Linked DNA regions of Homo sapiens. The protein of the gene in region 1 interacts with the protein of each later gene in a pairwise test. Each region holds a gene or a part of one and is shown in the gene's direction. Other genes may lie near its edges. The genes, in order: ZBTB9, DTNB, SYTL4 and CIB4.

Evidence for each region.
Region 2: the proteins of ZBTB9 (region 1) and DTNB interact in binary tests that used the Homo sapiens proteins (3 or more experiments, as listed by UniProt).
Region 3: the proteins of ZBTB9 (region 1) and SYTL4 interact in binary tests that used the Homo sapiens proteins (3 or more experiments, as listed by UniProt).
Region 4: the proteins of ZBTB9 (region 1) and CIB4 interact in binary tests that used the Homo sapiens proteins (3 or more experiments, as listed by UniProt).

The regions. Positions count from the first base shown.
Region 1 is NC_000006.12:33,449,984-33,457,575, forward strand, and holds ZBTB9 (zinc finger and BTB domain-containing protein 9), read left to right. Parts: upstream 1-4,592; 5' UTR 4,593-4,792; intron 4,793-5,046; 5' UTR 5,047-5,117; coding exon 5,118-6,539; 3' UTR 6,540-7,561; downstream 7,562-7,592. Other genes in the region: SYNGAP1 (ras/Rap GTPase-activating protein SynGAP), read left to right, coding at 1,777-1,923. UniProt on the Homo sapiens protein: May be involved in transcriptional regulation.
Region 2 is NC_000002.12:25,376,724-25,383,582, reverse strand, and holds the end of DTNB (dystrobrevin beta), read left to right. Parts: intron 1-4,259; coding exon 4,260-4,264; coding exon of another isoform or gene 4,265-4,293; intron 4,294-6,029; coding exon of another isoform or gene 6,030-6,253; 3' UTR 6,254-6,340; downstream 6,341-6,859.
Region 3 is NC_000023.11:100,673,991-100,680,145, reverse strand, and holds the end of SYTL4 (synaptotagmin-like protein 4), read left to right. Parts: intron 1-733; coding exon 734-833; intron 834-1,546; coding exon 1,547-1,755; intron 1,756-1,876; coding exon of another isoform or gene 1,877-2,030; intron 2,031-3,969; coding exon 3,970-4,118; 3' UTR 4,119-5,655; downstream 5,656-6,155. UniProt on the Homo sapiens protein: Modulates exocytosis of dense-core granules and secretion of hormones in the pancreas and the pituitary. Interacts with vesicles containing negatively charged phospholipids in a Ca(2+)-independent manner.
Region 4 is NC_000002.12:26,638,362-26,646,056, reverse strand, and holds the start of CIB4 (calcium and integrin-binding family member 4), read left to right. Parts: upstream 1-4,690; 5' UTR 4,691-4,742; coding exon 4,743-4,796; intron 4,797-5,433; coding exon of another isoform or gene 5,434-5,489; coding exon 5,490-5,524; intron 5,525-7,417; exon of another isoform or gene 7,418-7,695.

The DNA.
Region 1 (7,592 bases):
GACTCCTGCAGTGAATTCTTTTGTAAAATGAATAATGGCACCCTAATTTATCCACTTTCTAAATTTGGGTCCATGGGGGTGTCCAGGGCATGCTTATGTGCTGTCACCAGCAGACAAACAGAGGGAATGGAATCTGGGGGTTCCTTCCCTGCTCTCCCGCCATACTCAGGATACCCTACCATAAGTGATTTCCTCTCACTGACTTGCAGAAAATGTGTGAGATACCCAGCAAGCTAAGAAGGCAGTTTTGCTGGGTATCTCATACCCAAGGCTGGGGTTTGGGTGATCTGAGAGGTTAGCTCCTTGATCCTAGGATGGAAGGGAGAGCTTATATAGAAGCTTTTACTTGGAAGGTTTTGTATCCTAAGGTCAGACATAGCTATATTACCAAGCCTAAATGCCATGTGGCCCAGGAAATAATTTGGACATTTGTTCTAAACCACTTGTGGTAGGTATTGGTCTCTCTGCAACTCAGCCATTAATTAGAAATTAGTTTTGAGCCTGAATTTTAAAAAGCCAAGTGTTGCCCCCAGCCCACACACACACACACGGACATGTACAGTACAAACCCCAGATAATTACAACAGCCAAAGAGAGAAGGAAGTGAATTTCCCAACCAGAAGCGTAGGGAAATTCAGATGGCTTTCTTTTCTCCCAGCAGAGGAACAGAAGGCGGAGCTAAGGGCAGGAACCAGGAGTTGGTCAAGGAGCTATAGGAGGTGATGAGAGTAGAACCAGGGGTAGGAGCTGGTCTGGTACCCCTCACCCTCTAATTGGGAGCCCAGGGAGAAGGACTGAAAAGAAGATGGGAGTGGAAAAGAATAAAGCCAGTTTCTGCTTCCCAGGGATGCAGAGATTGGGGCATGCTGTGTCTGCAGAAGCTCCTAGTCATTTCCGCCATAATTGTGAGAGAGAGGGGCAGCCCTCCCACAAGATTTTTCCCTTCCCATATCACTTCCCTGAATCCCCTTCCTTTCCCCCCAGTACAGTTAAACCTCTCTCTAATTTGGAATGTTATATTTGAGAAGATGGCCACTGTGAATAAGTGACAAACGGAATGACAGTGTCTATTTAATGAAATGCATGTCTTCAAAATATATACAGAACTCGATGAACAAGGCTTTTTCCACTCCTCAGGGAGCATGCATTAATGAATAGATAGGATTCAAAAGTCTGTTTTCTGGTATGGGTTAAATATCCCCTCCTACAGACATATTTCCACCACTAATTTGCTTAGTACACCTTTTCTTCACAGATAAAGGAAAATGCAAGCTCAGTTTTTCTTCAGATTATGAAGAAATTCCAAATCCACAGGGGTTTGGATTAATGAGGTTTTGCTGTACTGCCTCCCCTTATTCCTCAACATGAAGTTCCCACCTCGGATTGGGGATGGGTGGGAGGGGGTTTCAAGAGGAGGAGGGTGGGATGGGCAAGGAATATACACAGGTGAAGCCAGAGAAGGGTTAGGTTGGGGGTGCGGTGGGAACTTGCTGTTTTGATCTGGTTTCCTGGTGTGACACTCTGGGTTAAAGGCTTGAAGGCCCCTGTTAGGAGTCTAGGGGTGAGATTCTCTTCTCTCTGATCCCAGAGGACGTTAACTTCTACTGCAGGTGAGAAACAAAATAGGAGGATGGTGGGGACTGTCCTGGGAGGAGGGGGTGGTCCATGGCTTGTGGTGTGGGCTGGCTATAGGGGAGGCCACTGCTAGGGGACTGGCATCCAGGCCCCCTTGAAGCGTCTCAATAAGTCCGCGCTCTCCTTTTTGGTGTCTTGCAGGAGAGGCAGCTTCCCCCCTTGGGTCCAACAAACCCGCGTGTGACGCTGGCCCCACCGTGGAATGGCCTGGCCCCCCCAGCCCCACCACCCCCACCCCGGCTGCAGATTACGGAGAACGGCGAGTTCCGAAACACCGCAGACCACTAGCCCACCCAGCATCAGAGACCTTCTCTTCCTTTCCTGTGCACCCCACCCTGTAACAGCACCAACCACCAGGATTGGACATCACCGAGGAACAGCGGGATTGCCTCCCCGAATGCCTCCCTGGGAGGCACACTGATTGCCCACCCCCACCACTGCACCATTTCCAGGAGGGAGAGTGGGGACCCTCAGCCGCCCCCTTTTCCTTCCCATTGGGGTGCTGCCCTCTCTTTGACCCCCAGGGACCCTTGCCCCAGGACACCGCCTACCCCGTACAGACCCCTTCACTCCGGGGTGCTATCCCCATCCTCTGCCTCATCGTTCCCCTGAGCACTGGGGGACAGACCCTCACCCCCACCCTGGGGGTGTGGCACCTCCAAACTTTCAACTTCAGGGTGATTTTTTTAGCAGTAACCAGAGCTGACAATCTAACTCCCCTCCACCGCCCCATTTTGGCCTCCCCTGCCCCCCTTGTTATGGGGAGGGGACCCCGGGTGAGGGGGCCCTATTACCCCTTGATTTCTCAGGAGCGTCTGGGGGGGCTCAGCACGCACAAACTCCTTCTCCTTCTACCACTCTTAAATTTACTCCCTCCCCACCCAGAACCCAGATGGGGTGGAGGGGGCCACCGGGGCAGGGAGGGGGCGGCAAGGGGGGAATGGGAGTTGTCTCCCCTTCTCCCCACACCTGATCTGCTCTCGGCTGGTCCCAGAGCGGGGTGAGGGGGCTTATGCCCCCCCCTCCCCCAGTGTGTTGGGTGGGGTGGAATTGAGGTTAGGGTGAGGGGTCAGGGTTTAGGAGGGTGTGTATGTTGGGAGGACAGGCTAGTTGATCTGTCCTACTCTGACACACAGTCCCCTCTGCCCCTTCCTTCTCTCTTCTTGGTCTCTACTCCCAGGGGGAGGGGGGAACTTACTCTAGGAAAAGCCATGTCTCTCTCCCCCAGGGTGGGGGGACCTGTGTTGGAGGAGGGGTGTTGGGGGGCCCCCTTCCATGACTCTGTCCCCTGGGGGAGGTAGGACAGGGCTGGGCTTCCCTCTCATCCTCCCCCTCCCAATCTCCTTCCACCTCCCTCCCTCCCGCCAGCTCCACGATTTTTCGGTGTTTCTCTGTACATAGTTTTCTGGCGGGATAGGGGAGGTAGGATGGATGGGGTTTGGGGTGGGTAGGCCATGGGAGGGGAGAAGCCCCTCCTTGGCACCCCCTCTTCCCTGACTGCTGTCCCCTACCCAGCCTTGCCCCCTTCATCCTTTTGCGTTTGGTATTGAGACTCTCCTAGACTCTACTCCTCTTTCTTTTGTATGGACAGTTCCCCTTCAGTCCCATCCCCCTACACATACACCCAGCCGGGGCCAAATTTATACTTATATAAAAGTTGTAAATATGTGAAATTTTATCCCTGTGCCCTTTCCCCACCTCAGGCCCTACCCCTGGACCCTCCCCAACCTTCCTTCTCTCTTCTTTGGCTGTTGTAATTATCTGGGGTTTGTACTGTACATATCCGGGGTGTGTGTGTGTGGGCTGGGGGCAACCCTTCTGTACAGAGCTTCCTGGCCCCCTCCCCCCCCGCCCCTCTGCTTCCCTCCCCACCCACCACCTCAAGGGTAGGGAGTTGCTCTTCCTACCTGTTTTATTTTGTTTTCTCGTTCTCCCTCCCCACCCCACTCCCAGCCTTATCTATCCCCCCTCACTGTCCCCTTTTCTCCACTCCCAGCCCCATTTCCTTTTTTTCTGGAGTGTGTGGTGAAACAGAAAAAAACATGTTTAATAAACGGAGATTGTTCTTTTATCGCTGTGCCGACTTTCTTAGGCAGGGCTCTCCAGACCTGTACGGTGGTAAGATCTGCTTTCTGAAAGGAAGCTGACAGCCTGAGAGGAAAACCGTATATCCCCACCTGATGCCACACTCTCCTCATAGAATGTCACTCTCCCCTCCCAATGAGATTTTTTATATTTTAGAGCAGGAGTTTTGCACCGGCCAAACTTCTCCAATCTAACTCTCCCCTCACCACTGTGTCACTTAGTCCGAGGCCAGGAACAGCGGCGTTATCTGATAAAAGAGTTCATGTATATATCCACATTTATCTCTTTTAAAAATTACCTAGAAATAAGGTTTCTTTAATTGCTGGTTAAAATGCTCCCGTGCAGAAAACAGGAAAGAACCTGCCTGGTTCCTTAGCAAATCTGAGTTCCAGTCCCAGGTCCACTACTATTAGCTGAGTGACGCTTCCAGCCCGTTTCCCCCGCCTGGAAACTGAGGACGGCAACCCCCACCCTCGCAGGGCCGGTGGGAAGACACAAAGTGATGTGGGCAAGTGCCAGGCCCACATGGTAAGTACCCAACTAATCTCGCCCCTCTCAGGACCTACCGGGGGCGGGTGCTACACTTAATCACCGGGAAACGCAGCTTTCCGGGGCGGCTGACGGCCCACCCCCTCCGACCGGGCTGTTCTCTCCCGGGCCCTGCCTCTCGGTCCTCTGCAGCGGGGAGGACTTCAGCAGCTCCCCGGGACGCCCGTTGCGAGGACACCCTGGGCCTGTGCCCTCCTACTAGCACCGCCCTCCTCGTCTGCAGTAGCCAATCAACACGAGGCTTGTAGGCTGCCGTTCCTCGATTGGCTACGGCTCTAGCTCCGCCCGCCGCACTTGGCGACGGTGTCCGGCGGGGAGGCGGCGGCTTCCGGTCTGGGACGGAGCTGTAGCGGCACTGTAACTGCGAGGGCAGCGCCGCGTGTGTAACGGCGGGGGCGTGTCGGCGGGAAGGACAATCGGGCCGGGACTCGCGGTGTCCGGGTGACCGCGGCTTCCCGGGAGCAGACCTCTGTGGGCACTGTGAGGCGGAACGGAGCGGCGGGGCAGGAGCTGTTCTGGGCAGGTGAAGGCAGGCTGGTGGCTGAAGGACCTCCTTCTTATCTTCCACAGGGGCTGGAAGTTAAAACCCCTGTTGGTGTTTAGTGGTGGTGGTTGTTGTTGTTGTTTGTTTTTGCTTTCTTGGTGTGCGGGACTGATTTGCAGAAACCGCCACTGACTTAAAAGTTTCCAGTTATTGCTCGTGGGGAGGGGGTTGTTTGAGAAGATGTGGCTCCCTTTATCCAGGGCTTCTGTGACCTCCATCTTTTTCCTCTGCAGCCTTCATCCCGCGTGGAGTCTACCCCCAAGCCCTTCTCCTCTTCCCAATTCTTGTCACCTTCGAGGAGGCCATGGAAACCCCAACACCTTTGCCGCCTGTACCCGCCTCCCCGACCTGCAACCCAGCCCCACGGACAATCCAGATCGAGTTCCCACAGCATAGCTCGTCTCTGCTGGAATCTCTGAACCGCCACAGGCTAGAGGGAAAGTTCTGTGATGTGTCCCTCCTGGTGCAGGGCCGGGAACTTAGGGCTCATAAAGCAGTGTTAGCTGCTGCCTCTCCTTACTTCCATGACAAGCTGCTTCTGGGGGATGCGCCTCGTCTCACTCTACCGAGTGTCATTGAAGCCGATGCCTTCGAGGGGCTGCTCCAGCTCATTTATTCAGGGCGTCTCCGCCTGCCACTGGATGCTCTTCCTGCTCATCTCCTTGTGGCCAGTGGCCTTCAAATGTGGCAGGTAGTAGATCAGTGCTCAGAAATTCTTAGAGAATTAGAAACTTCAGGTGGTGGAATTTCAGCCCGTGGAGGAAACTCCTACCATGCCCTTCTTTCCACTACATCCTCTACAGGAGGCTGGTGCATTCGCTCTTCGCCTTTCCAGACCCCAGTACAGTCCTCTGCTTCTACTGAAAGCCCTGCTTCCACTGAGAGCCCTGTGGGAGGGGAGGGAAGTGAACTGGGAGAAGTGCTGCAAATTCAGGTGGAAGAAGAAGAGGAGGAGGAGGAAGATGATGATGATGAGGACCAGGGGTCAGCCACACTCTCTCAGACTCCTCAGCCCCAGAGAGTATCAGGGGTTTTTCCCCGTCCTCATGGACCCCACCCACTGCCCATGACTGCTACTCCCCGAAAGCTTCCAGAGGGTGAGAGTGCACCACTTGAGCTTCCTGCCCCTCCTGCACTGCCCCCCAAAATCTTCTACATTAAGCAGGAACCCTTCGAGCCTAAGGAGGAGATATCAGGAAGCGGAACTCAGCCTGGAGGAGCAAAGGAGGAAACCAAAGTGTTTTCTGGAGGGGACACTGAAGGGAATGGGGAGCTAGGGTTCTTGTTGCCTTCAGGGCCAGGGCCAACATCTGGGGGAGGGGGTCCATCCTGGAAACCAGTGGATCTTCATGGGAATGAAATCCTGTCAGGGGGTGGAGGACCTGGGGGAGCAGGCCAGGCCGTGCATGGGCCTGTGAAGCTAGGGGGGACACCCCCTGCAGATGGAAAACGCTTTGGTTGCCTGTGTGGGAAGCGGTTTGCAGTGAAGCCAAAGCGTGACCGGCACATCATGCTGACCTTCAGCCTTCGGCCTTTTGGCTGTGGCATCTGCAACAAGCGCTTCAAGCTGAAGCACCATCTGACAGAGCACATGAAGACCCATGCTGGAGCCCTGCATGCCTGTCCCCACTGTGGCCGTCGGTTCCGAGTCCATGCCTGTTTTCTCCGCCACCGGGACCTATGCAAGGGCCAGGGCTGGGCCACTGCCCACTGGACTTACAAGTGACTGCTGAGGCTATACACTAGCTTCTAGAACAAGATAACCACTGCTGCTGATGGATACTTTTCCCTCACTGCCATGGCACACCAGTCATGGATCTTGTAATCATGCCAAGAGAATAGATACATTATGGACCTCTTGTTCTTAGATATGGGCCTCTCAGCCTGGCAGATGTGGAAACTCAAATTTCTCGTCCCACTCCAGGTTTTGGCTAGCCAACCCTGCAGGAAAGTGGTTTATAGGCCATTCATACTTAAGTTGATCACTTGCCCATGGTGGACATTTTTGTGGTGGTGATGTCCATTAAGGAAACCAGATTTTCAATTATTTAGTGAGAGAAGAGTTAGAGCAAAAGACAGTGGTAAATGTTTTATTCCGTCTCCATGAGGAATTGAAGGAGTTGGTCTCCACCTAGAGATACATTTGATTTACAGCTTAAGTAATTCAGAGGCTAAGCTCTAAGCTTTTTTCTCTCATTGCTGGAATGATTTAAGCAGAAGTCCTTTTGTGTACTTTTAAAATTGTATCTTTCCAGGAGCCCCTCAGATTGTACCTTGCTTTCTCACCAATAGACACCTTCCCGACACTTTTTTAATGTTGTAGCTGAGCACTTTAACAAGTTGAGCATTCCATGTTTCATTCTTAGAACCTTCTTTAATAGAGGGTCTTCCCTCAACAGCCTGTGCCTCTGGTCTACCTTTGACCACCACTGATAACTAATATATTGGTCACAATGACTGGAATGTGACTAGTGATCTCAGGAGATGGCACTGTCCTAAAGTGCTGTCAGGGTGGCACCACTGCTCTCTGAACAACTTACCTTGGTCAGAGGGACTCAGGTTTGGGACAGCACAAGCTGAAGGCTGGAGAGTAACTTGCATAGTAGGACCATACCTCTTCCTTTCCCATCCCACCCACATATGATAGACAGCCCCTCTGTTGAGATATGGAGGGGACAGATACTGGAATCGGGGGTGGGACTTGCAGTTACTTAAAATTTTTTAATAAACTGTGCCCTGAAACCTAAACTGACAGTGGACTGGATTGAGTAATTTGTGT
Region 2 (6,859 bases), on another chromosome or scaffold:
GTAGAACACAAAAGATGACCCTTTGACTGGAGAAGTTTATGATCTAGTTAATAAAGCAAGACCAGGCCAGGTGCGGTGGCTCACGCCTGTAATCCCAGCACTTTGGGAGGCTGAGGCGGGTGGATCACAAGGTCAGGAGTTCAAGACCAGCAGGCTGGCCAACATAGTGAAACCTCATCTCTACTAAAAATACAAAAAATTAGCCAGGTGTGGTGGCAGGCGCCTGTAGTCCCAGCTACTTGGGGAGAATGAGGCAGGAGAATCACTTGAACCTGGGAGGCAGAGATTGCAGTGAGCCGAGATCACACCACTGCACTCCGTCCTGGGCAACAAGAGTGAAACTCCATCTCCAAAAAAAAAAAAAAAAAAGACCAAAAATGCAAAATAAATAGATCAAATGAAGTGGCAGAAAAAGCTAATCATAAAACTTTCAGCATATAAGTATAATAAGGGTTTCTGAAAAGGAAGAGATTGTTGTGGACTAGAATAGCCAAATGGTTTTGTGGCTTCATGGAAGAATAAAACCAAGAAGGGAAGGTGTCAGCAAAGGACAGTAGTGCCTTCCTAGTTTCATTATATATCGAACCTGCTTAACACATGACATCTGGGAAGAGCTGCAGGGAATGATTTTCACGTATGATGATCTCATCTAATCCTTAACACTGTGAGACAGATTCGAATATCCCCATTTTACCCATGAGGAAATAGGCTCAGAGAGATGTTGTTCATGTAGCTGTTAAACGGCAGAGATTTAGGCCAGACGTGGTGGCTCACACCTGTAATCCCAGCACTTTGGAAGGCCGAGGCGGGCGGATCACTTGAGGCCAGGAATTCGAGAGCAGCCTGGCCAACATGGTGAAACCCTGTCTCTACTAAAAATACAAAAATAAGCCAGGTGTGGTGGTGCATGCCTGTAATCGCAGCTACTCGGGAGGCTGAAGCAGGAGAATCCCTTGAACTCAGGAGGCAGAGGTTGCAGTGAGCCAAGATCACGCAACTGCACTCCAGCCTGGGCAACAAAGAGAGACTCTGTCTCAAAAAAAAAAAAAAAAAAAAAAAAAAAGGCAGAGAACTGGGTCTTTCTGACTCCAAACTTCGTGCTCTTAATCTTCATCCTTCTATGTTATACTGAACAGAAAACAAAATTTTCTTTGGACATTTGAGGGTGAGCTGTTCTTTCTGTTGTGCATTAATGTGTTAGTTGCTGGATTCCTCCTAAACATCAGCTCCTCAAGGCAGAGATTTTAGTCTGTTTTGTTCATGTTGTGTTCCAGTGCCTGGTGCTTAGTAGGAGGTCAATAAATGAACAAATCAAAGGAAATAAATGGGGTGATGAGATAGAGAGTACCTTATCGGGGAGAGAAATGCAATGGCTGGTCACCCCAAGGAGGTGAAGGTAGGGAGAGCAGGAAGCATGAGGAGGAGCCAGCAGCAGCCCTCCCAGGGAGGAATTCTGAACAAGGCTCGGGGGAGTGAAAGAACCTGCCAGCTGATAAATGGCACAGCCTGAGTTCAACTCCAATGCCCATGGTTTAGTCTGAGCTGAACTGGTAGACTAAGGGAAGTGGAGTGGTCTTACTTAAGGAAGGGTAGAAGCCAAGTGGGAGATACAGGTAAGGAAGCTGTGACAAGAAAGGGAAACCTACAGGACAGTGGGTCTGGAGCATTCTTGGCCCATAGGGGCTGGAGTGGCTAAGACAGGGTCGTCTTTGGAGTCTCACGGGGCAAGGAATTTGTCAGCAAGGACCCTGAAATTGCTGAGGAAGAAACTGGGAGAAGAGGAAGAAGATTCTGCAGATTCTGAAATCGTCTAGTGAGTCTGAGCTAGGCCTGGGAGGAAGTGGACAGCAGCGCCAACGAGTTGATGAGAATGACATATGTGGCACGGACACCAAAAGGTCAGACTAGGCTGGGCATGGTGGCTTACACCTGTAATCCCAGCACTTTAGGAGGCTGAGGCAGGGGGATCACTTGATGCCAGGAGTTTGAGACCAGCATAGGCAACATAGCAAGACCCCATCTCTACAAAAAATAAATTAGCCGGATGTGGTAGTGCACACCTGTAGTCCCAGCTGCTTTGGAGGCAGAGGCAGGAGGACTGCTTGAGCCCAGGAGTTTAAGGCTGCAGTGAGCTATAGTCACGCCACTGCATTCCAGCCTGGATAACAGAGCAAAGCCCTATCTAAAAAATAAAAATAAAAGGTCACATTAGAGAGCAGTAGTGTTTCAGACATCCAGGAATGCTTCATAGAAATGTAGAAACAATTGACTTACCCACACAGACAAGAAAGAAGGCAGGAGGGCAAAAGGTGAAGAGATACACAGATAAATTTACACTGGTGTAAACACATGCTGCAAACACGCGCACACACACGCACACGCACATGCACATGCACATGCCAACCAAATCCTAGCATTCATGTGGAATGTTCCTGGCTGAAGACATAACAGCTGCATCTCTGGCCTCCCTTCACCTGCCCCTCCCTTCCCCAGTAGCTTTTTCCCATGGCCTCTCCTCAGTCCTTTTCACTCCACCAAAGCAAACCTAGGACTGCCCCAGCCACTGAGGCCTTGCCCTGGCCACGAACTCTAGCCCTTATCCTGGTTCGAGTCTGAGTGTGGGCCATGCCTCACATGGGAATCAGACTGGGTTTCCCTTGCCCAGCCCTCCAGGCCCCAGGGTGCTGTCTCTGCACCTGCACTCCCCTGTCCACATCAAACTGGGTTTCCCTTGCCCGGGCCTCCAGGTCCCAAGGTGCTGTCTTTGCACCTGCACTCCACTGTCCACATCAGACTGGGTTTCCCTCGCCCGGGCCTCCAGGCCCCAGGGCACTGTCTCTGCACGTGCACTGCCCTGTTCGCATCAGACTGGGTTTCCCTTTCCCGGCACTCCAGGCCCCAGGGCACTGTCTTTACACCTGCACTGCCCTGTCTGCATCTCTTCTGTCTTTCTGTGCCTCTTGCCCTTAGAGCTCCTTGTCTGTCTTTCAGTGCATATACCAGAATGTCTGTATGTCTATGTGAAATCTTTTTGTGGGAATGCCTGAATTTTTACGTATGTGACTTTCTGGTGTCATCCCTAAGGCCAAGAGTGTTAAGAGTTGGGGTGAGAGATGGTAGAGTTTTTTATGTTTGGCTCTCCACATTATATAGGTTCTAGGATATGTCCCTGAAACTACAACGTAGCTCATACATGGGCATTTTTATAAGACTAAGTGTTTTTATGGGTGGACCTCCTGATTCTCTGCCATGAGCTAGGCCTGAGATTTTACAGACCTAGGACTAACTGCAGTCACCTGGACACCAGAGATCTGTAACTGTCAACCGTAAAGAGAGAGAGTATATTTGCTTCTTTGGGGTTGAAACCATACTGACGTAATATAAACAGAATTTGGTCAGCACCATCAGGCAAACATAGTCTGCTCGATAAGGAAACTGTGAGAGTCAAATGGAACTTTTGAAGAATCTAGACCAAGCTGAACTTCCCTGCCATATTCACCCCTGCCTCACGCCTCTCCCTGTTCACCCCTGGCTGGCTGGCTGCATCCTGGGGAATGCTTCTGCTCCATCGGGGTACCCTTCCTCCTCTGCATCTCCTCAAGAGAAGTGTAACCAAGACACATAGAAGAAGCACAGACTAACACACCTTCCCCCATAGTACATCATCTCCACCCTCCACAGCCTCATGTTATGCTCCTGTGTCCTTCACAGTCTCCCCTCCCATACCCTGCCATCCCGGTGTGGGGGCTGTAAATCCAGTTTGCATCCATAAAGAGCCCTGGTGCAAGGCTGGACAGCAATGGCCCTCAGAGAACAGAACAGGCTCAGGAGGGGCCAGGCAGTGCTCGAGCCTCGGGTGAGCAAGCGCAGGGCTTTTCAAAGCAGACCATCTGCAGGAGGGGGACCGCCCTCACTCAAGGCGCAGTCATGTTCCCTTGGGGAACTTTCAGAGCTGAGTGGGCTTTGCCCCCCTCATGTAACTGCTCCCTGGATTTAAGGAGTTTTGATTCCATTTTTTAATGACTTTCCTTCTCCTGAGAAGCATCTGTCTCCATGGCTGCCTCGGGTTGGCTACAGTAGTAGAAAGTATGACTCTACCCTGCTGTCATACCTGGGTGGGAAAAGTCAACAAACGAGTAACGGGAGAAGCAAGGAAGCCCCTGGGGTGGGTTGGTCAGGGAAGCCCCTTTGAGATAGTCTGGGGCATGAGAAGACCTGGCCGTGACCTCAGTGTGTTGTTTCTGCCCATGCTGCCACAGGTTAGCAGAGGAGCCGGACACAGAGGAAGCTCAGGTGAGTACAAAGAGTCCTCTGCCTCCCCACGGCCCCTCCCTCCTTCCTCAGCATCTTCCCTTCCCCTCCCTTCCTGCAGTCACAGGTCCCTAGCCAGGGCAGTCCTAACAGGTGAAGATGCAAGAGCCCAACTGTCCCTTCCCTTTGCCCACCCCAGCCATGTGCCCTCCTTGCCCTGTTTCTAGGCTGTGTCCTGTCTTGCACAGCACTGTCTGCAGGCCTGGTCCTTGGGCATGGCCTGGTGTCCTCTGTGTTGGGATGGCATTGGCAGACCCGACACTGCTGGCTGAAACAGGGTGTGCTGAGCAAGGCCACCTCCCTGGGGAGCACTGCCTCCCATGCTCCTTTCCCACAGCCACTGCCCACTTCCTTCCTGGGATCCAAACCACAGCCAGTGCGTCCCTGGATTCTGTCACCCAGCACTGCACCGAATCACAGTCCCTGACCCACAGACATGTGATTCATGCAGGATCACACTGACTACAGGGCTGACCAAGCCGCTTCCCATGGTGCCCGGCCAAGCTGCACCTTCTCACTTCCTGAAGAAGCAATGCAGAAAAGTACGGACTGCTCCAGTGGCAGATGCTCATTGCCTTTAGGAATTAGTCATTCCCATTTTCCAGCTCAACACCTTAATTCTTTCTAGTCCCAGCACCAAGATATCAGACTTCTCCATTTTAAAATCTTGTCTTCCCTCCCCTCCTCCCACCCCCCCACCTCTTATATTTAAAAATTAGGCATCTTCCTCGAATAAAGAAGTCAGGGCCCTAGCTGCACAATCCAGAAAAGGGGTTTTTTCAGACCCTCCCAAGTCGTGTCATCCTGGAATAGCCTCTGGCCCTCTCTGCCCAACCGCGCCAGGCCATTGAAGGCCTCTGCCCGCTCCCCCGGGGCCCCTGCAGCCTCGGCCTGCGCTGACTCTGGATTGTGCGAGCTGAGGAGAGGGCAGCACCTGGGCCACGCACATTCTCTCGCTGCCCTGGAAATCACAGCGCCCCAGGGGCTTGGAGAGAGGCTTCTCCCTAAACTCACTGTGCACATTCAGGCAAGGCCCTTTCCCAAGCAAGCCTAGGCCGTGGCAGCCGAGGAGGGAAATCAGGAACTGACTCGCCCTGCAGGAGCCTGCCAGAGCCCCTCTCTCCCCGGGGCAGAAGGAACTGGGGTGCAAGGGAACGTGGCAGAGCCATGTGCCCCCACCGCCTTGTTGCACATGGAGGAAACCAATGCCCCACACCAGAAGCTCCATGCCAGAAGCAGAATTGGAGCCGGGTCTTCTGCCTCCTAATCCTGCGCTCTCTGACCCACATCAGGGGTGATGAGAAACACCAACAGCCGAGAGTTAAACTAAGAGTATAAAACTTGGGTGCCGCGGATTCATGGATGCCCAGGCCTGCGCTCTGCTGGCCGGGGGCTGAGGCTTCCTCCCTTTCCTCTTAGTATTCATCGGCACACCTCAGTCCTCCCTGCCCTTCTCCTGGGCCACAATTCTCCCCAAGAAATCACCCCATTCAAACCTTGCATTGTGAACCCAATTCTTTCTTCCACGGAAACACTTCCTGACCCTTAGGAATGATGGCAGAGGACCCTAGGTACCACCCTTCAGCCCAACGCTTGAAAGGCGCCCAGCATCCTAGCAGCCCCTCCCTGCAGGGCCTCCTGTTCACAGTAGATGTTAGCAGCTTTTGTCCTGAACCCTCAACAGTGCCCGTGACTAACGGTGAGTGTGTCTTGCGCAGGCACAGAGGACGAGGAGCAAGCTGGCGCCGACATGGCGAAGGCAAGGTCTTCCCCCAGAGGCACATTCCTCTCCATCTTTCCACCGCACACCTGGACCAGGCTTGCAGGCTGCCAGACGTCACTCCACCCGCCAGGGAGAGGGGAGCCAGAGCCGGTGGGAAGCGGGGAGGGGCTGCGTGGCACAGCTAGTGGGCCTCCCCCTGCACAGCCCTGCATGTACTAGCACCTTCATCACTCCCCTCAGGGCATGGTCTCATCTCCGCATCAGGAATTCACCTGGAGGTTGAAAAGAGAAAAGAAAAAGCACCAAGCTCTTGTGTGTTTGTGACCTGATGAAACACTTCCTGGCGTCTGGCCAGCACGTGGGGTGCTCCTGAACGTGGGGGCACAAGTTTCCTTATCTTTGACCTTTAAAAACCAACAGGTTTCTTCCAGCGTGCAAAGAAAGCGTCAGGCCTTGCTCGGCTCTGTAGACATTCACACCCTGGCCACGGTGCTAAAAATAGTCTCACACTGGTTAGGCTTCCGCCCGCCCCGTGTGATGCCGCCGCCTGCAGCCCGGGAGGGAGGGGCGGAGACCCAGCCGCGCGCCGCAGCCGGGCTGAGCCTCCTCGGAGAGGGCGGGAGGGTCTCTGCGCCGCGGACTCCGTGGCCGCCAGGGGGCGCGCCGCCGGGGGCGCTGCTCGCAGCCTCTCGCCTTAGGGGTCGATTGGGCTCGGGCACACGTGATCAAGTCCCGTTCCCGGTGATTTTCATTTATTTTTTCCTCCTCCCTGGGCTCCAGGATGTTATTTTTAGCAGAAGAACTGCTATAAATATTTATAAAGGG
Region 3 (6,155 bases), on another chromosome or scaffold:
CAATTGGCATTAGATTGCATTTTCAGTGGATCAGTGAAAGCAGAAACCAGATTTCACTAGAAACTAGGCTGAGTGAATGGGCAAAGAAGTAGAGGTGGTAAGTGTGGACTTTTTTTCCTCAGGATAATTGATGGTGAAAGAAAGTAGAGACATGGAGAATAGCTTGAAGAAGAGATAAGGTTAAAGGGAGCTTTTCTTTTAGAAGTACTTTTTCAAAGAGATGAGATTAGTATATATTTAGACTGAGGGGAAGGGACAAGTGGAGAAAGAGATATTTAAATTGGGAGGTGAGGATTGAAATTGATGATGTCTGAAGAGTCCTGTGAAGTAGGGGTGGAATCGAGAACTCAGATGGAGGAGTTCCCTCTTTTTTAAATCATTGAACAAATATCAGGCAACTTTATGTCTCTAAGCCTCAATTTTCTCATGTACAAAATGAGGACAAAAATAGTGTGACTCTCCTAGGGTTGTTTTGAGAATTAAATGCTTAACATGGTATCTGGCACATAGCCAGTTTTCAATAGGCATTTATTAATATTGTGGTTGTTATTAATACAGCACCTATTGCTTACTGGCAGGCACTGTGCTAGGCACTGAGGAGACAGGACAGGCACGGTTCTGTTATGGAGCTCGCTGCCTTTAGGAGCAAGCAAAGAAAGTGCTGCATAAACAAAGCTCAAGATAAATCTAGAGGTGGAAGGGGCTCACTTGCTATGGCTGACATCCCTTACAGGTAAAGGTGGGGAAGGGGGAGAGCTCCAGGTGTGGATCAAAGAAGCCAAGAACTTGACGGCTGCCAAAGCAGGAGGGACTTCAGACAGCTTTGTCAAGGGGTGAGTCCCTAGACCAGCCCCAAATTAACCAGTTTCAGAACAAGAGAGCTAAGAGAAGAATTTAACTTTCTCTGTGGATATTATCCAGTGTGTCTTACCACTCCCGGCAACCAAATTTGTTCCTGAAATTAGGTAATGACAAAACCTTCACCACCTTTGCACTGGTCTGGGCTGTAGACTTGATAATCCAAAGAGGAGGGCTGCAGACAGGTTCTGACTTTTGTCTGACTCATGTTCTTAATTAATTCTGGGTGAAAATCTGTGTCTTCTGACTGTCTAGATTTGGGAACTCAGGGCTTTGTTTCCCACAGTTTTTAAGCTTTCCGAAAATTACAGATTACCTACTGACTTAATTTATCTAGAAATCATGTTTGGCTAAGTTTATAGATATTACTATTGGTTTTATTTAAAGAGATAAATTGTCTAGTAGAAACAAAGCCAAATATTTAAAACCCATTTTCAGTGGAGCACAGAATAGCCTCACTAATACTATTATATTCATTTTCTCTCTAGGTTAAAGGAATTGAATCAGGTGAATGATCTAGTAGAGGTAGTGGGAACTCTGCTTCAGCAGATTCAAGGAGGGGCGTGTGTAGTAGGATCTGGATGTGGGTTCATCTTCTTGGGCTAGGCCTGTGGTAGGGGAAAGGGGAATTTAGAGAGATAACTGTCCGCTTTGAGTAGGCTGTTGATTACTCCCCGCCCTCTGCCAGATACCTCCTTCCCATGAGGAACAAGGCCAGTAAACGTAAAACTCCTGTGATGAAGAAGACCCTGAATCCTCACTACAACCATACATTTGTCTACAATGGTGTGAGGCTGGAAGATCTACAGCATATGTGCCTGGAACTGACTGTGTGGGACCGGGAGCCCCTGGCCAGCAATGACTTCCTGGGAGGGGTCAGGCTGGGTGTTGGCACTGGTGAGATCCCCTCCCCCATCCTCACTTGTTTGAAGGCTTCTTGTCTATTTTACTCCTATTACCATTCCCGCCCCCCAACACAAAGCTCCTCTGTGATGACAGTTGTCTTCTTTCCTTTCAGTTAACATTCAGCCAATACTTATTGAGTGCCTACTATGTGCCAGGACTAGGGGAAGGCTGAGCTCATGCACTGATATGTGCACAGATAAATGTGACCCTGATTGCCAGGAACTTCATAATCTTCCCACCAAAAAAATCTACAAACCTACCTATATGTATGTACCTATACATTCCATCTTCCATGCTGTTAATAATGAAAGAAGGGTCATTGCTAGCAAAAGCCAAGCTCTCTCCAAGTGCTCTGGGCCACCTCCCCCTACCCTTCTCGATGACCTCACTTCTATAATCGTCATCTCTCAGTTTCATCCTCCCTACCTACCAGGGGTGAATACAGATATGCTCTGGTATTTCCAATCTTATGAAACAAAAACAAACCTTTCCTTGACTACACGTTCCCCTTCTAGTTTCTTAGAAAGAATTGTCTCCACTTCTCACCTCTCCTTCAGCTCTCCTTCACTGTGATCTGGCTTTTGTCCCACCACTCTGCTGAGCAGTTGCTCTTGCCAAAGTGTTGTTCTCATCTCACTAGAATTTTCAGCACTATTTAACATGCTAGATCACTCCTTTTCGCTTGAAACGCTGAACTTCTATTGACACTGCATTCTGATTCCCTTTTAAGTCACTGCTCACCCCTTCTCAGTTTTCTTTGTAGGTGCTGCATTCTATACCCAAACTCTAAATGTTGGTGCTTGGCAGAGCTTAGTCTCGGATCCTCTTCTTTGCCCTCTCCCTAGTCTCTGCACTTGTCTATTAATATACTTATATATTAATAATCACACAGAATATTTAACATGAAGCATATAGACTGATGTTTTTACACATGTAAGCCAATTCATGTCAGTCCCCTGTTAAAACCCCTCAGTGGCTTTCTGTTGTGCTTAGAAAACAATCCAAAGTTCTTAACATGCCTACAGGCCCCTGTGTAACCTGGGTCCTCTGTTCCTTTCTGATCCGTCTTGTATCACTCTTCCCCTTGCTCACTATGCTTCAACCAAAATGACTTTCTGCTCTCCAAATATACCAAGCTCATTCCCACTTCAGAACCTTTGCAATTATTGTTTTCTCTGAATGGAAAGTCTGGTTCTTTCTTATCCTTCAGGTCTTGGCTCAAATGTCACCTTCTCAGAGAGTCCTCAGACCACTCCATCTGCACAGTAGTTCCTGAGTCAGTCACTATACATCACCCTGTTTATTTACATCATAATGTTAACCTCACTGTCTGAAATACTCTTATTGGTTTGCTTGTATATTTTCTGTCTTCCCTATTCAAATGAAAGTTGCCTGAGGACAGAGACTTTTTCTGCTTTGTTTACTAGTGTCTCTAGAGCCTAGAAGAGTACCTGGCACACAGTAGGCACTCAATAAATGTTTGCTGAATTAATGGATGAATATATAAGAGAATATGAATGGGGCCACATACGATCCTCACTTCTGACCTGGAGTCTGCAGCTAGAGGAGAGGTGTTTAGCTTTAAAAGAAAAAAGTTGGCCGGGCACGGTGGCTCACACCTGTAATCCCAGCACTTTGGGAGGCTGAGGCAGGCAGATCACGAGGTCAAGAGATCGAGACCATCCTAGCCAACATGGTGAAACCCCGTCTCTACTAAAAATACAAAAAAATTAGCTGGGCGTGGTGGCGCAGGCCTGTAGTCCCAGGTACTCTGGAGGCTGAGGCGGGAGAATCGCTTGAACCCAGGAAGCAGAAGTTGCAGTGAGCCAAGATTGTGCCACTGCACTCCAGCCTGGCGACAGAGCGAGGCTCCGTCTCAAATTAATAATAATAATAAAAGAAAAATGTTTAAGTACAGTTGGCAATAGCTCTGGCATGAGTTGTCAGGCACTAGAACTCTGTAACAGCCTCAGAATAAGAAGTCTCTAGTGACTGTGTGCCATTTGGAGTCTGATTTCATCAACCCAGAGTCTCTTGACAGAGTCTCAGGAATACAGGTGAGGGAGCACTTCCCAGACTGCTGTGGCCATTAGCCCATCTTCGTAGGAAACTGTTATGGGGTGGCTAATCTTGCTGTACAACCCATCTTCCCTGGTGGGCTGAGAGTGGGGCCCCTCTTTAGCCTCTTCTGGTGTTTCTCCTCAGGGATCAGTAATGGGGAAGTGGTGGACTGGATGGACTCGACTGGGGAAGAAGTGAGCCTGTGGCAGAAGATGCGACAGTACCCAGGGTCTTGGGCAGAAGGGACTCTGCAGCTCCGTTCCTCAATGGCCAAGCAGAAGCTGGGTTTATGAGTCCCTGTCCTCTTCTGCAGGTCCAGCCCTGGCGAGGGCAGGTCAGAGGAAGTGAAGAAATCAAGAGCAAAGATTTATAATTTAATGTGTATGTGTGTATGTGTGTATGTGTGTGTGTGTGTGTGTGTGTGTATGTGTACAAACATGTATTTTCTGCAAATCTCATTATGCTGGCTAGAGTGATGCAGACTTGTTCTTCTTTTTAAAGCAGTCTCAAGAATAAGCATTTCTTTAAAATGTTTCTGTGTATAATCTAGTTTATTTTCAGAGTCCATTTTTTCTTATGTCTTTATAAGGTTCACTTAACTTAAAAACAGCTTTTAAAACAACTTTTTATCTTCTGTCTTGCTATCATTGTTCCTACTTCCCTAGGAAGCCCTGGCTACCTTTCGCATTAGGACCAGTCTGGGTTTTAAGGCTCTGGGAAGCAGGGTTGGTTAGTAAAGACAGGAATGTTGGGGAGAGGTGAGTAGTTCCTTCCTCTTTCTCCTCTCCAATTTATGCTTTTAACTTATTTTCTACCTGGATAAACTTCTGGAACTTGGCTTTTAAATTTAACTTTTCTAGTTTTTAAGCAGTTTCCACCTTGCTTTGGTCTAATGCTTTTCTTTGAAATGCTAACAGAATTCCCAAGCTTTTTCCAGTTCTAGATATCTTTACTAGACCTTTGGGGGACTCTTATAATGGAGCTGCTTTTGAAAAGCACTTTAATTAGATAATGTATTTTGACTAAATCACGAGGATGCCCAGTGAGAGCTTCTAGCTGATCTCAGAGGACCAGAGTGACTGAGGGTAAAGTGTCTCACAGCCCATGCTGAATTTTCTGCATTTTAAACTGATACTGCAGTCATTGGAGAGAGAGCTCCTCATTTCTCGAATGAAAGATGAGATATATTCATCCTCATGTACCACATCTGTCTTAGTGTTTGCGTCTGGGGTGTGTTATCAAACAGAGCATGGTCTACATCCCACTGTGTCAACCAGAAGAGCCAAGTGTTATCTCAATTGGCCCAGTGTTTCTCCAGGCTGGGGACTGTTAAGGGCTCTAAGGGAATGTAGACAGAGTCTCCCTGTTATTCTGACTTCCTGCTTGATGAGCTTTCAGTTCCTGTTTTTGCTATTGTTTCCTAAATTTGACCTACATATTACATGGGTGTAGTGTGTTGAGGCTTTTCAAAGAAGGGTCTAGTGAGCTAAGTTTCATCTTCTGGTACTCATTGATCAAACTGACCTTTCTATTCTCATAAGCGTTTCTACCCAAAGTTGTGTGTGGAAGGAGTGTATAGCAGAGAGGAAATCCCTTTCAACAGAGTCAGCTGCTAACTGATTTCCTATAAGCACACTGGATTAAGGGCAGCCACAGTGGTTTCTACTGTATGTATGAACCGAATGGAGGAATGTTTTCAAAGATTGATTTGGTGTGGATTGCAATTGTAATGGAAGGCATAACTTGGGATCCCGGGCTGTAACTTGCTCTTTTGTTTCCCACCCCCCTGACATGTATGTGTGCTTTAATAAAGCTTTCTCACTTGTCAAACGTTTGTGTTTGTTAGTTCTATAAATGCTTTTGTCTCTGATGTCCTCACTGTTGCTTTTCCCCTGGCTTGAAGGATAAGAACCAAAGTGATAAATGCTCTTCCCTAACCATCCTATGCTGATTGAAGAAAATTCACCTTTCCCCGCATTGCTGCCTGATACCTTAAATGCCTGATACTTTCGCTGAGCTTGATCCCTCGTCCTTTGTATTTGGTATCTAAGGAGAACACTGAGAAATCATCTTTAAAGTGGCACCACTTTTCTATCTTGTAACAAAGGAACTCTTCCTTTAGCTTTGCAGACCCTCCTATACTGGAGGAAGGAGAGAGATGTTCATACAGGAGGTGAGGGGAGACATTCCCTGCTATAAGCACTTCTTTCTGGATCCTTCAATTTCTCTGGGAGGCGGGGACTTTTTCTTTTACTCCTCCTACCATTATGTAGTTTTGAGAGAGAAATAACACAGGTGCCAAGTAACCCAGCTCAGAAATAAGGCTCTTG
Region 4 (7,695 bases), on another chromosome or scaffold:
AGACAGGGTTTCACTATGTTGCCCAGGCTGGTTTTGAACTCCTGGGCTCAAGAGACCCGCCCGTCTCAGCCTCCCAAAGTACTGGGATTACAGACATAAGCTGCCACGCCCGGCGCTTATTACTTGTTCTTTTGATTTTGACCATGCTGGTGGGTGTGAAGAGGTATCTCACTGTGCTTTTGATCTGCGTCTCCCTGATGGCTACTGATGTTGAGCTTCTTTTTATATGCTCATTGGCCATTTATGTATCTTCTTACATGTCTATTCAAATCTTTTGCCCATTTTTAAGTTGGCTTATTTGGCCTTTTATTGTTGAATTGTGAGAATTTTTTATATATTCTGAATGCAAGTTTCTTTTCAACTCTTCTCGAATTCTAAGAGACACCTAAATCAGGGTCGGAGCCGGGGTTGTAGTTTTACCGGTCTGTAAAACTGTAAGTTGCAAGGTGACAGAAACCTTGCAAAGAATACATTCTGTTCCACACAGAGGGTTCCTGCAGAGGTGGATCCTGGAGGAGAAGGATGTAGAACTGCCCTTCCCCAGAACCTCCTCCCTCCTCAATTATACCCCTTTCAAAATCTCTGCTGAAGAGGAGTTTAAGGGATGTAATGGGCTGGAGATGGATAGAGAGGCAGGTTGGTTAGTGTATCAAAGGCAGAATCATATGGAGGGAGGATTTCTCTCTCTTTTTTAAAGAACACTAGCTTTTATTTCTGGGACAAATGAGATGGTACATAAAAAAGCATTTTGAAATTATAAAGGAATATGCAAATGTAAAGTGATATTCTTATTGTTAGTATTGTTATTGTAGGAACCAATGAAAACCCTCTCTGTGATGAAATGACAGAGCCTGCGGGGGTGCAGGGAAGGCAGGGGTTGGGGAGTTAGGGGGATGAAAGATCAAGGAGAGAGAAGGGTAGCAGAGTTTGCAAACCTTGGGGTCTGTGTGTGAGTGAGAGAGAGAGAGAGACTGAGAGAGAGAAAAAGAGACACAGAGAGAGAGATTCATGATTTCTGGCATATTTCTTTACCACCTGTATAATTATTTACTTAATATTTTTGAATAGGTTCCTATTTCTTTTAATTAAACAGATATGTTTATAGAGGAAACTTTAGATCACAGTAATAAATGGCAAACCTGCATCATTTTCAATATGGAAGATACCTTTATATAAACAAATATAATGAAAACCAGTGTTATTAAATTCTCGCTGGATCCCGTGGTCATCTGGGTCTGTGCAACTGGCCCTGATTTCTTAGCCTGGTTCACTCGTCCCCGTCACTCAGGTCTCTGCTCCGGTGCTTCCATGACCACCAGCACCTCCATCGTCACACCCTCTCTCCCCCGCTCCCTGCTTTCCTTCTTCCGCAGCACGTATGGCTGTCTAAGGGATGTGGGTGCACATATGCGCGTCTGGATCTGTGAGGGCAGGACATCATCTGTCTCATTCACCTCTGTCTGCACTACCTCGCTCAATGAATAGTGGTTGAGTCAGTAGCTTAAAGCTCTGGGCTCCAGGGCAGCTCTCTCTTTTGTTTTTGTTTTCTTTTTGGCAAGTGTCAGCCAGGTGTCAAAGTCACAACCAGCCAGTGCCAAGCTGCCACTTGCACCTCGATGTGATGAGGAGCACTGAGGCTGGAGAAGGAAGTGGCTTTCTGGGTGTGATCCTGCAGATCATCTGGCTTCCCCAAGTTTCCTGCCCCATGCTTTGGGAATCCACAGACCCACATCTTGTCCACTTATCAGCTGACTGACCCAAGAGCGTCACTTCACCTCACCAGCCTCCGCCTTCCCTAGAGCAAAGAAGCAAGGACACCCTACTGCCCTCAATGAGCTGCTTGAGCCTGAATGTAGACAGTTTACATGCACACACCTGGCAGATAGAAGCTGCTTAATCAACGATGGTAGAAGCTCAAAGGGGTTAGCAGAAGATGGGGTTTGACCACTGGCTTAGCCTGCAAAAGTCCTACCCTTCCTTCCAGGCCTAACTCTTTTTTTTTTTTTTTGAGGTGGAATTTCACTCTTGTTGCCCAGGCTGGAGTGCAATGGCAAGATCTTGGCTCACTGCATCCTCTGCCTCCTGGGTTCAAGAGATTCTCCTGTCTCAGCCTCCTGAGTAGCTGGGATTACAGGTGCATGCCATCATGCCCGGCTAATTTTTGTATTTTTAGTAGAGATGGGGCTTCATCATATTGATCAGTCTGGTCTCGAACTCTTGACCTCAGGTGATCTGCCTGCCTCGGCCTCCAAAAGTGCTGGGATTACAGGCATGAGCCACCATGCCCGGCCCAGGCCCAACTTTTAAAAGTAGTAATATAATTTACCCTTATTTTTGTTTGTTTTGAAACAGGGTCTCACTCTGTCACCCAGGCTGGAGTACAGAGGCACGATCTTGGCTCACTGCAACCTCCACCTCCTGGGTTCAAGCGATTCTCATACCTCAACCTCCCCAGTAGCTGGGACTACAGACACACGCCACCACACCTGGCTAATTTTTGTATTTTTAGTAGAGATGGGATTTCGCCATGTTAGCCAGGCTGGTAATTTACCCTTTATTGAGAACTCAATACATAGCAGGTATCTTGCTAAATAAGAGCTTCACATACACCCATCATTTTATTTTATGCCTGCAATACTTATGAAGTAGGGATTTATCATTCCCCTTTTACAGATGAGGAAACTGAGGCTTACAGTATTTTATGACTTGCTTGAGGTGATGCAGTAAGAAGAGATGCTGCCAGGCCTTTCAGATTTCAGAGCCCATGTTCTTAACCACCGCATGATAACAGCAACTTAAATGCCACCACCTACATGAAAGCTTGGTGCCCAGCAAGCCTTTCCTCTTCTAAACACTCGTAACTCTGTACTCTTCCCCGTCTGTGACATCTGCCTCCATCTGCTTTAGTGTGTGTATATATGTGTGTGTGTGTATGTGTGTGTGTGTGGTGAGCACACATTTCTTTTTTTTTTTTTTTTTTCTTACTCCCTTAAAAGAGCATGAAGAGCATACGTTCCTTGAGGGTTGAAGTCATGTTCAGTCCTCTCTCTCCCAGGGTCAAGCCAAGTCCCTGGCACACTGTGGATATTCTACCTGTGTCTGGTGAGCAGATGAAGGAATGAGGGCCCCGGGTTTCCTTCTGCCAGGCTCTATCCCCATGGAGGACAGTCAAAGAAAAAGCAGGCAGTTGCACTTCAGAGATATAAATAAGCGTCATCAGAGAATCACTGGGATGTTTACTCAGGAGAGCATAGGGAAGATGTGTTCTAGAACAAGGAGACCAGCCTTTCATGACAAAGGTGGGTGTGCAGACCCTCCTGGAGGCAGGGGAGGGAGTGATGGCTTCTGGAAGGCCCTCCTGGCCTGTGATGTTGATGCCTGTGCTGGACGTTGTCTCTGTCTGCCCATCCTGCTCCGCCCTGTTCTCTTCCCTGTAGGAGATCACAGAAAGAGGAGAGAGTGGGGCTGGGGTGGTGCTTCCAGGTGGGTGGTGCTGGGTCGGGTAGCAGCTCTTTGTTGTTGGGCTCAGGAGTCTGTGTTATCCAGTTATCCATGTGACTTCCCTACACCCTGAACACATCTTTGTGGAGAGTCCTTTTTTTAGACCCTTTTCACATGATCCTGATTTGATGGTGCCCTTTGTTCCTGCAGAGACCCTGACTGATGGGGTGGAACGCCCTTTTCTGTACTTTTTGGGCCACTCCCTGAGGTTGGATCTATGCTGATATATTTCGGCATCCCCATGCCTGGCATAGTCCTGGGGTTGTGGTTCCTTGTTTATTTTTTATTTTGATTTGTTAGAGACAAGGTCTTGCTCTGTCACCCAGGCTGAAGTGCAGTGGTATGATCATCGCTCACTGCAGCCATGAACTCCTGGGCTCAAACGATCCTCCTGCCTCAGCCTCCTGAGTAGCTGGGACTACAGGTGTGCTGGTGTGCACCTCTGCACCCAGCAGGTTGTAGGGTTTTTTTGTTTTTTTGAGACAGGGTCCTAGGCTGGAGTGCAGTGGTGCGATCTTGGCTCTCTGCAACCTCTACCTCCCAGGTTCAAGCGATTCTCCCATCGTAGCCTCTGGAGTCACTGGGACTACAGGTCATGCCACCATGCCAGCTAATTTTTGTATTTTTTGGTAGAGACAGGGTTTCTGCATGTTGGCCAGGCTGGTAGCAAACGCCTCACCTCAAGTGATCCACCAGACTTGGCCTCCCAAAGTATTGGGATTAGAGGCGTGAGCCACCATGCCCAGCTAGGTTGTGGTTCAAATAGCTAGCATTTATTGAGCACTTACTATGTGCCTGACATTATTCCCTGTATTCGTCAATCCTCACAACAATCCCATGATTATCATCCCCACTTACAGATGAGGAAACTAAGACACACAGATATTGAAGAGCTTGTCCCAGGTTACAATGGGGTGGATCTGGGATTGGAGCCCAGGCACTGTGACTCCTGAGCTGACAGTGTGACTCTCAGCCCCATCTTTGGACTGCCTTTCTGCTTGTTGTATGGGACTGATGCCTCTTAGCTTTGGGATTGAAAATAATTTGCTTCTTTGCTAACTCAGCAACTCAGGTGGAATGGGAATGAAAAGAATTTGTTTCTTTGCCAACTCAGTAACTCAGGTGGAATGGGCAGAAGGTGGAATGTAGGTCACCATGGCAACTGGATCAACGAGGTGCCTCAGCTGGCGAGTCCTTGAGGCTGAGGTTCTACTGCTGGCAGACAGAAAGGTGTGGTTGGCATGGGGCAATGCTTGAGGTATCAGATGCACTGGGAGGACCTGGAAGAGTACCAGGTGGGTAGATCGGGCTAGGGACTCTGGGCAGAGGTGGGAGCTTCCTAAAGCAGGTGGAATGAATGGGAAAATTCCTTCCTGACGCTCTAGCAGGGGTGTCCAATTTTTGGCTTCCCTGGGCCACATTGGAAGAAGAATTGTCTTGGGCCACACATAAAATACACTAACACTAATGCTTGCTGATGAGCTAATAAAAAAAAATCACGAAAAAATCTGATAATGTTTTAAGAAAGTTTACAAATATGTGTTGGGACCCCATTCAAAGCTGTCCTGGGCTGCATGTGGCCTGCAGGCCGTGGGTTGGACAAGCTTGCTCTAGAGTTTACCAGGCGGGGTAGCGGTGGTCCCTCTCTTTGCTAAATCTGCATCCATGTGGCCCAGATGAGATCTCTAAGGTTACCTTCCTCCATCTGTCTCCTGCACCAGAGCCCAGAGTTTCACTCTTGTCTCTGATCTGCTCTCCACATCTGTGCCAATGCCCTCCTTCCCAGGGCTGTAAGAGACTAGGGGGTAAGAAAGAGCACCATTTCCTCTCCTGCTGCCACCTCAGGCATCCACCTCAACCTGGGGTTCCCCCAGCTGTGCAGCAAAAGAATGGGCATTTCCTCCCCAGCCTCTGAATTGCGCCACTCCCCAGGGGCCACAGCAGGGATGAATGGAGTGGACACGTCGCTTCTCTGTGATTTGTTGCAGGCCCTGACCTTCCTGACCAGAAATGAAATTCTGTGGTGAGTAGAAGCCCCGCCCCTCTTTCCTTCTCCCAGCTCCTCCCTCTGAGCTGGATTCTTGCCCTAATACAGCCTCACGCTGGTCCCTGAGTGTGGTCCCTGCTCAGAGCCACACAGCCCTGGAGATGGGGCTGGGACACGGCAGGCAGGGATGGGAGGGCCCAGGGGCCACGATCCGCAGAGCCCCACTGGAGCTGAATGAGACACCAGGCTTTAGGCTGCTAACCTTTTACTGGGATCCAAAGTGAGGTTTCTTCAGAGGATCATGGAGCTGGACAGAACCTCTTTGGAATAATGAGGAGAACAAGGAAAGGACTTGGGGAACTTATGTCTGAAGCCCATTTTGGCTGTCCACTGGCTGGGTAAACTTGGATGCATGACTGAAGCCCAGACTTCCCTCTCCACCTCCCTCCCTCCCTCCCTCCCTCCCTGCCCTTTCTCCGGTGCCTGTGATGTGCTGGCCTCGTGGAGGCCCTGAGGGTGGGGTGGTGAGCAGCCCCGCTCCCTGTTGTCATGCGGACCGCTGTCCAGTGGGGAAGAAACTTCATTCAACGTGGAGGTGGCCAAATACCCTTCTCGTGGGGCTGTGGGGGAGAGTGAATAGTGTGAGAGGTGTGTGTGTGTTTGTGTGTTTGGGCCAAGCCAGGTGCCCAACAAAACCTGTTAGATGAATAAAGGAGCTCACCAAGACACTTTCAGGGGAAGGTGGGGGAAGGTTCCCTCTCATCATCTTTGCTTGGACTAACCCTCCCCAGTCACCACACGGAAGCCACATTTCCCACTCAGGGTCTGGTGGTGGCAGGTAACAACTTTGTCACAAGTGCAAGACTCTCCAGGCACAAATGAGGATGGGGGATGGCCAGGGCACGGGGAGCTAACCAGGGGCTGTCACCCAGTGACATTGTTTCCCTTTTGAAAATAATATTCACTCACTTTTTTAAATATAGAAAAATATGACATAACTCCAAATGACCCATATCCTACTACCCATATAACCTCTATTGAAATTTTCTGAAAAGTATCACATGAATAAAAATAAAATGAAATCTAAAAAAAAATGCTACCTGGCTAGAAAATTCAAAATTCAAATAATGGTTCTCAGTCATAAGTGGGAGTTGAACAATGAGAACACATGGACACAGGGAGGGGAACATCACACACTGGGGCCTGTTGGGGGGTGGGGGTCTAGGGGAGGGATAGCATGAAGAGAAATATCTAATGTAGATGACAGGTTGATGGGTGCAGCAAACCACCATGACATGTGTATACCTATGTAACAAACCTGCATGTTCTGCACATGTATCCCAGAACTTAAAATATAATTTAAAAAAAAAAAAAGAAAATTCAAATAGTGTAAAAGTTCTAAGTGAAAAGAAAATGTCTCCATTCTCTCCTCCCAGTCCTTTTCCCTCAAGGCCGCCTCTGCTCACTGTTGGTTTGTCTTACCATCTAGCCTTCTGGAAGAATTTTCCATACATAAGCCAACACATTTATCCTCCTTTTACCCCATTCACATGGTTGCATTTATCCCTTCATACTGTTCTGTACCTTTTTTTTTTTTAAGCTTTTGGGGTTTTTTTTGAGACAGAGTCTTGCTCTGTCTCCCAGGCTAGAGTGCAGTGGTGCAATCTTGGCTCACTGCAACCTGTGCCTCCCTGGTTTAAATAATTCTCTTGCCTCAGCCTCCTGAGTAGCTGGGACTACAGGTGCCTGCCACCACGCCCGGCAAATTTTTGTATTTCTGTAGAGATAGGGTTTCACCATGTTGGCCAGGCTGTTCTCAAACTCCTGACCTCCAGTGATCCTCCCACCTTGGCATCCCAAAGTGCTGGGATTACAGGGGTGAGCCACTGCACCCGGCCTACATTTTAGAACTTCGATGGGTGAGACAATGTTGTCCTTCAAAGGAGTTGCACCAGTTTGTACTCTCAGCAAGGGGGCATGGCCATGCCTGCCCCTCTTTCTAACCCAGGGGCTTCAAATGGCATTCATGGATCCACCCCTGGGGTTCCTCCTATATGCCAGGAGAGAGCATGGGGTGGTGGACGAGAGGAGTGAGAGGAGTATGGGAAGGGTTCAGGCTCTCTCTCGAACATCGATCCTCCATTTTCATTTGTTCTGCCTTGGCCTTCGGAGAAAGAGTTCCTTGGAAGCGAGCCATGCTTATGGAC